Regions from separate parts of the Homo sapiens genome. Here region 1 is reported to be linked to region 2. The links are microRNA targets in miRTarBase. Many come from high-throughput screens and were not tested one by one. Region 2 holds a microRNA gene; the other region holds the end of a gene's coding sequence.

What was found. The annotated mature microRNA hsa-miR-6861-5p reads ACUGGGUAGGUGGGGCUCCAGG and lies in region 2 at 2,763-2,784, shown strand. An mRNA with a match to its seed (bases 2 to 7 or 8) in the 3' UTR can be bound and repressed. Matches are read on the target gene's strand: a 7mer-m8 pairs with bases 2 to 8, a 7mer-A1 pairs with bases 2 to 7 and ends in A, and an 8mer does both.
Region 1: the mRNA of OR2A4 is a reported target of hsa-miR-6861-5p. The part of its 3' UTR that is shown has no 7-base or 8-base seed match.

What each region holds. Positions count from the first base shown.
Region 1 is chr6:131,696,832-131,700,893 of GRCh38, forward strand. It overlaps OR2A4 (olfactory receptor family 2 subfamily A member 4), which reads right to left. Exons shown (of 1, transcript NM_030908.2): 1 at 2,813-4,062. The coding sequence ends at 3,638. The region is part of intron 15 of ENPP3 (ectonucleotide pyrophosphatase/phosphodiesterase 3); the gene reads left to right. Among named protein-coding and RNA genes, the nearest start is that of OR2A4, 2.5 kb to the right of the region's middle. RefSeq lists an enhancer at 3,670-4,062.
Region 2 is chr12:112,162,013-112,166,078 of GRCh38, reverse strand. It overlaps MIR6861 (microRNA 6861), which reads left to right and starts at 2,758; the gene lies at 2,758-2,821. It overlaps HECTD4 (HECT domain E3 ubiquitin protein ligase 4), which reads left to right. Exons shown (of 76, transcript NM_001388303.1): 73 at 1,804-1,970; 74 at 2,342-2,537; 75 at 2,815-3,037; 76 at 3,556-4,066. The coding sequence ends at 3,692. RefSeq lists an enhancer at 1-131.

The sequences.
Region 1 (4,062 bases), not on the chromosome of region 2:
CGATCTCGGCTCATTGCAAGCTCCGCCTCCCAGGTTCATGCCATTCTCCTGCCTCAGCCTCCTGAGTAGCTGGGACTACAGGCACCCACCACCACACCCAGCTAATTTTTTGTATTTCTAGTAGAGACGAGGTTTCACCATGTTAGCCAGGATGGTCTCAATCTCCTGACCTCATGATCCGCCCTCCTTGGTCTCCCAGTGCCGGGATTACAGGCGTGAGCCACCGTGCCGGCCTGAGCACCTTTTTAAAGCCAGCAGTAGCTCTAGGGCAAGGAAGGGTAAAGAGAAGGAGGCAGGTTTCCAGATGGAAGAACTAGATTCCTGCAGTTGCAAGTAGTTCTGCATTGCTGGAGCACTGAGTGTATGAAGCCATCATGTGTACAAAGGACCTTGTCTGAAATGACTAAGGAGTGTGACTTTGATCTTGAAGAAAGTAGGCTGTTGGTAGATACAGGTGGCTTGAGGTGAATATAGGGATATTTGCTTTTGGAGAGGTCCTTCAAGATGCTACATGGACGAGGATGGTCTAGCGCAGTGGTCCCCAACCCTTTTGGCACCAGGGACCGGTTTCATAGAAGACAGTTTTTCCAGGGTGGGGGCGGGAAGGGGGGGTGGTTTCAGAATGATTCAAGCGCATGACGTTTATTGTGCACTTTATTTCAGTTATTATTACACTGTAATAGATAATGAAATAATTATACAACTCGTTATACTGTAGAATCAGTGGGAGCCCTGAGCTTGTTTTCCTGCAACTAGATGGTCCTATCTGGGGGCGATGGGAGACAGTGATTGGTCATCAGGCGTTAGATTTTCGTAAGGAGCATACAACTTATATTCCTTGCATGGGCAGTTCACAATAGGATTCACCCTCCTATGAGAATCTAATGCCACTGCTGATCTGACAGGAGGCGGAGCTCAGGTGGTAATGCTTACTGACCCACCACTCACCTCCTGTTGTGTGGCCTGGTTCCTAACAGGCCACAGACAGGTGTGGGTCCATGGCCCAGGGGTTGGGGACCCCTAGTCTAGTGTGAAACAGGGAAGCCTGTTAGAAAGGTATGTAGTGACCCATTCAGCCCCAAGGGAGCCCATGAAGCCATGGGGATGGTGAAACTATATAGTGCATCACCGGGAAGGTATTATGGTTAACTTAGAAGCCACAGTTTCTAGGATAGTCTTGCTTTTATCATATTCTGTCTGATGTTTGTTCTCATTAGAACATAGATTTTTATTTCCAGCAGTGTTAAATAAGATTAGGGGTATGTGTGTGGGTGTGTGTGTGTGCGTGTGTATGTGTTTTGAAGGGAAGATTCAGAAGTTCTGAAGGCAGGATGATCAATTTGGGAAATTGTTCAAGGGGCTTATTAGAACCTACCTGAAGGGAACGTTTTTCTAGGACACAAAACACCGGTGCAAATCCACTGTTGAAAATGTTCTCCAATGTCTATTGTGAAATGGAGAGATTTTGAGTTCAGCTCCTTTCGGGAGGGGAGGAAAGAATCCTCTCCAAGGCAGCTTCCTCTAGCAGTTTCCTGCCTCTTGTGGGATGAGAAGATTTGCTGTCTAAGATATTATCATATTTATTTGTATTTTGCTGAGTTCTTTTACTGGATGTAAGGCAGTCCAAATGTTATTTGGAAATCTCCTATCAATCAATCATGCAATTTAGATAGAAGTTAGTTCCATACAGTGTGATCTCTGACTTGCTAAGGTTTAGAATAAACTCAAAGGGCAATGTGGCACAGTTATTAAGGTTTGAGAGTATGCCCATCTGTGCTCTGACTCTACACATCCACTGCGAGAAGAAACATCCATATAACACCAAAAACACTATATGAAAATCTTGTTGCACAGTAGGCCACCCATCAATATTACAGCTTTTCTTTTTCTTTTGATGTTCCAGGTGACCTGCAGGAAATGTAGAAATCAGGAAACTGACATACAAAAGAAAAAGTTAGTAGCAAATGGAAACAACTTTATAAAAATATAATATGGTATATAGTATAAAAATTATACTACAGTATACTTTTTACTTTATAAAAAGTATACCATAAAATAGTTTTAAAACTATTTTTATACTATATAAATAGTATAAGCAGTATAAAATAGGCTGGGCAGGATGGCTCATGCCTGTAATCCTAGCACTTTGGGAGGCCGAGGCAGGTGAATCAACTGAGGTCAGGAGTTTGAGACCAGCCTGGCCAACACGGTGAAACCCTGTCTCTACTAAAAATACAAACCCTGTCTCTACTGAAAATTAGCTATGCGTGGTGGCACATGCCTGTAGTCCCAGCTACTTAGGAGGCTGAGGCAGGAGAATTGTTTCAACCCAGGAGGCAGAGGTTGCGGTGAGCCGAGATTGCACCACTGCACTCCAGCCTGGGCTATAGAGCAAGACTGTCTCAAAAAAAAAAAAAAAAAAAAAGGATAAAATAGTTTTAGGACATAGTTTTATATCTAACATGATATGACACTGAGTTATTGTGTAAAAAGTTATTTTAAAATATAAAAGTAAATTCTTTGAACTAAGACAATGAGAAATTAAATATAAATGTTTAAGACCAAACTTAAACCTAGAAAAAACATCATCTCAAAATGACATGTTTCCCATGGCATAAGAAGCTGCTACAACTTTTAAGTGTGTAGGTGGTGGATTTTGAAATCTTTCTAGATTTTTCTTTCTTGAGAAATCTGGGTTTATCTTGAAAACCCTGAATTAGAAAAATTAGATTGATTTCATTCAGCGGCAAACACAGGAAGATGTATACTGAATCATATTTCTTAAAAATCTCAAATTTAGAAGATTGTGAGGTTGAATGAGGTCATCTCCTGAAGCTTCTATAGCAGGAATGCCGATCCATGATGAAGGACAGGATTGCATTTATTTTCTTTAGATGATCTACCATTGAACAGTAGAGACAGGGTCCCTCACGGTCTGTATCCAAACAGAACCCGGATTTTTACAGACTGATCGAGGCATAATGCTCAGAACTACATCTCTTTAGAGGCTCACTTTGCAAGGAAAAAAGAAATCATTCTGCCCTAGAAGGGGGCTGTAGGAAGTATTCACAATGAGTCAATTAATATCAAGATCTCCTGTTCCAGGAAACTGTTACTAAGTATTACAAAGGAAATTTTATGTGCTCACATAAGTTTAGAAAACACTGGCTTAAAGCTGGTATAGAATTATTCTTTCCTAGAGAAATATTTACAGCATTCACTATGCTAATATGAATTGTGATCCCTAGACAGAGGCATCTGATGTGAAGTAAGTCTCAAACTTATTTGACTATAGAACTTATTTTTAAAGTCCTCTGAAGGGACCAGTGTTTTGAGGAAAACATTATGGGAGGTATGGGACTGGATCAAAAGCTAATGAGGATATTGTAAGGGGTATTGTCCTGGTGTGGAGTGGCTGCAGCACAACTTGAAGAGATCAATTTCTAGAATTTCATCCCACATCTGCTGAAATCAGTCATTTAAAGGTAGGGCAGGAGATAGCTCCATTTTAAATAAATGTCTCAGATAATTCTCATGTCCATTGAGGGCAGAGGTCCCACCAGTGCAGAGATGGGTTAAGAACCGCTCAATGATGTAACTTCCTAGGTCACTGTCAGTCACAATGCCATAATCCTTTTCATAAAGCCCTTTCTACTCCCAGCACTCTCTTCAAAGTATTCTTCACTTCTGAGTTCCTAAGACTACAGATAAGGGGATTGAGCATGGGATTAAAGAGGCTGTGAAACAGCAGGAGATATTTCTTCTGCTCCTTGGGGTTCCCATATCTGGGTCCAACATACATGATAATGGCTGTGCCATAAACGAGTCCAATCACACAGAGGTGGGAGAAGCAGGTGCGGAAGGCTTTCCTCTGAACTTCCCTTGATTGGATCTGAAGGATAGCACAGAGGATGCACATATATGAAACTACAATTGTGGACAAGGGTCCCACCAGCCCAGAAATTGCTCCGGCCAAGACCATGTTCTCATTGATGTGGGTATCTGCACAGGCAAGTTTGAGAACAGCCAAGATTTCACAAAAAAAGTGATAAATTTTCTGGG
Region 2 (4,066 bases):
CTGAGGCTTCTGGCTACAGGGATGGCCAAGGCCCCAGAGGGTATGGGATGCAGAACCACATGGTGTTGTGGGGTGCATACTAGGAAGAAGTGCTCTCGACTTGTATCAGTGGAGTGTCTGCGGTGAAGGGGTAGGGAGGTTGCTACTAAGGAGACTCCAGGCTTAGACCCGAATGTCCATCCACCTGTCACTGTCCCCAAGCTGCAGTCAGTCTCCTTTGGGTCCGACCCTGTCGTCTCCCTGGTAGCCCAGCAAGCACAGTGCGAATCAGTTTCCCCTGGACGCTGATCCTGGTCGCCATATGTGGGGAGGCGACAGCCTGTACACCTCCACAGACAGGACTAAGTCAGGGCTGTCTGGTGGCAAGGGACAGAAATCCCAACTCCAACAAGCTTTAGAAAAAAATTGTTTAAAATGAGTTGCTCTTAGGCCGGGCGCGGTGGCTCACGCCTGTAATCCCAGCACTTCGGGAGGCCAAGGTGGGCAGATCACGAGGTCAGGAGATTGAGACCATCCTGGCTAACACAGTGAAACCCCGTCTCTACTAAAAATACAAAAAATTAGCCAGGCATGGTGGCGGGCGCCTGTAGTCCCAGCTACTTGGGAGGCTGAGGCAGGAGAATGGTGTGAACTCGAGAGGCGGAGCTTGCAGTGAGCTGATATCGCGCCACTGCACTCCAGCCTGGGCGACAGAGCAAGACTTCATCTCAAAAAAAAAAAAAAAAAAAATTAGTTGCTCTTAAAACAAAAAGCATGATGGGTTTGACTTCAGGCAGGGCCAAATCCAGGTGTTCAAACAGTATCATCTGGTATTGGTCTCAGGCCTCTGATCCAGATTGCTTTAAAAAAAAAAAAAGAAAGAGGACAGGCGCGGTGGCTCAGCTGTAATCCCAGCACTTTGGGAGGCTGAGGCGGGTAGATCACGAGGTCAGGAGTTCAAGACCAGCCTGGCCAAGGTGGTGAAACCCCGTCTCTACTAAAAATACAAAAATTAGCCAGGCATGGTGGCGGGTGCCTGTAATCCCAGCTACTCGGGAGCCTGAGGCAGAGAATTGCTTGAACCCAGGAGGCAGAGGTTGCAGTGAGCTGAGATTGCGCCACTGCACTCCAGCTGACAGAGCGAGAATCTGTCTCAAAAAAAAAAAAAAGAAAAAGCGGTCTGGGTGCAGTGGCTCACACCTGTAATCCCAGCGCTTTGGAAGGCTGAGGCAGGTAGATCACCTGAGGTCAGGAGTTAGAGACCAGCCTGGCCAACATAGTGAAACCCAGTCTCTACTAAAAATACAAAAATTGACCAGGCATGGTGGTGGGCGCCTGTAATCCCAGCTACTCGGGAGGCTGAGGCAGGATAATTGCTTGCACCCAGGAGGCGAGGGGTTGCAGCGAGCCAAGATTGCGCCATTGCACTCCAGCCTGGGCAACAAGAGCAAAACTCCGTCTCAAAAAAAAAAAAAAGCAAGCATAATTAGCCTCAAGCAGTCTCTCCCAGCGCACGGGCAGAGGTGGCCTCCAGTGGTAAAGGGTTTCCCATCATAGTCGGTCCATGCCAGTGAGAGAGGATCGCTGCCTCCAAACAGACGTGGGAAGAGGCCTGGAATGTGGGTCTCTTTAGCCTGGCCTGGGTCACACGCCCGGCCCTGAACTGATGGCAGGTTCTGATTGGCGAAAGCTGTGTCACATGCTCATCTACACGGCCGAGGGTAGACCCCACCAGCTGCGCTTGGGGTTTACCCAGCCACCTGGGGATCAGGGTTCCACCTCCCATGGCCTCATAATGAGCCTCGCTCTGCCTCCACCCTCCAGATCAATGATGAGACCGAGCTGGAGGCCCTGTGCGCTGAGATCGCCTCCCAGCACCTGGCCACGGAGAGCCCTGACAGCCCCAACAAGCCCTGCTGCAGGTTCACCTACCTGACCATGACGGGCGAGGAGGTGGAGCTGTGCAGCCGGGGCCGGCACATCCTTGTGGCGTGAGTGTGTGCGCGTGTCAGGGGCTGGCAGGGGCTGGCCCGGCCAGCCAGCCAGGGTATGACAGCAGCATCTGTTCCTGGGCAATGACACGAGGACCTAGGTCAGGTGACAGGTGGATTTCACCAGGAGAGGGAGATGAGGCAGGATGGTGGGTGCCAAGAAAGAGGGTCCTCAGCAGAAGGGGTTTACTAAGAAAACAGCAGCTCTGAGGCGGCGGCACCAGAGGCAGGAAAGGACTGGGATGACCAGGGCGGCTGGGCCCCAGGCCTCTCCCAAGAGAGGATCCGGGACCTCCAGCTGAGTGGGTGTGGCCCCCAGACCCAGCCTCTTCGGCGGTGTTCTCCCTCACCTGTGCTCCTCACCCGGGCAGGTGGGAGAACAAGGACATCTACGCGGCAGCCATCCGGAGCCTGCGGCTGCGGGAGCTGCAGAATGTGGAGTGCGTGACGGCCGTGCGGGCCGGCCTGGGCTCCATCATCCCCCTGCAGCTGCTGACCATGCTCAGCCCACTGGAGATGGAGCTGCGCACCTGCGGCCTCCCCTACATCAACCTCGAGTTCCTCAAGGTAGACATCCCAGGGCCAGGCTGGGCGGGGAGGTGGTGAGCCCCAGGCGTGCCTCCCTGTCACCCTCAACTCCAGCAGCAGGCATCGGCAGTGGCCTGTCTCAGCTCTGTCCTTGCCACAGACCTGTATCATTGTCATCATTGTCATCTCCCTGTGCTCACAGCCCACACGTTGCACCCTGCCCCAGGATTGGGCCTGGCCTGCAGACCCCAGGGCTGGGGAGGCACTGGGTAGGTGGGGCTCCAGGGCTCCTGACACCTGGACCTCTCCTCCCCAGGCCCACACCATGTACCAAGTGGGGCTGATGGAGACGGACCAGCACATCGAGTTCTTCTGGGGGGCCCTGGAGATGTTCACCCAGGAGGAGCTGTGCAAGTTCATCAAGTTTGCCTGCAACCAGGAGCGCATCCCGTTCACCTGCCCCTGCAAAGATGGGGGTCCCGACACTGCCCATGTGCCCCCGTACCCCATGAAGATCGCCCCCCCAGATGGCACAGCAGGTACCGCCCTCCCCTGGCCATGTCCCAAGTAGGGACACACTAGCCTTTCTCTGTTTGGAACTGGGGCTGCCAGGCCCCATGTGAAGGGAGAACAATGAACAGGAGCCCCACGTGCCAAAACTCAGACATCATTGAGGATTAGGGCCCGGCAGGAACCAGCCATACAGGCCTGCTGTTAGATACTTTCTCATATCTTAAAAGAAGCTGAAAATCCAGAATGCTTCAAATCTTCTAACTTTTAAATGCAGAAAAATGGTTAAAAAAAAAAAAAAAGAAACAATTTGCTGGGCAGACAAACCCATCAGCAGTTTGGCACATGCGCTGTCCAGCAGCTCTCTCCCCTTTTCCCTCCAAGAACATCTCGCAGGTTCCCAGGCCCTCATCCCCCTCCTGCTGGGCCCCAGGATTGGCTTGGGGCTACCCAAGGAGGCAAACCTGGAAGCAGAGGCCAGCCCAGCTTCCCTGGGAGCCTCACAGATGTGGGCCCAACCCTCTGATGCTGGCTCGGTTTCTTGTAGGTTCCCCAGACTCTCGCTACATCCGCGTGGAGACCTGCATGTTCATGATCAAGCTTCCCCAGTACTCCTCTCTGGAAATCATGCTGGAGAAACTTCGTTGTGCCATTCACTACCGTGAAGACCCCCTCAGTGGCTGATGGGAGGGAGCCCCAGAATTAGGCTGTCACTGAGGCACCCACTCTGCTGGCTTGGGAAGCCACCACTGCGGCCCGTCCCTCCAGGGCCCTGCGTGAGGAGTTGGCAACATTTTGCTTTTCCAAACTTTCGTCCACATTCCAGGGCCTCCTGGAAGACTTAACCTTTTGTCTTTGTACGTTTCGTGATGGGTTGGTTCTTTTGCTGCCTGTTTGTGGTCTATTTGTAGGATAGTTTAGTTCCCAGACAGTTTGTGTCTAATTTGATCTTCTTGGACATTGTCCCTCATGGCCACCAGATTCTAATGCCATAAGGCCCCAGCTGGTTCCCCATCACAGAACCACCCAGCAGGAAGCCGGGGGTACAATGACCTCGG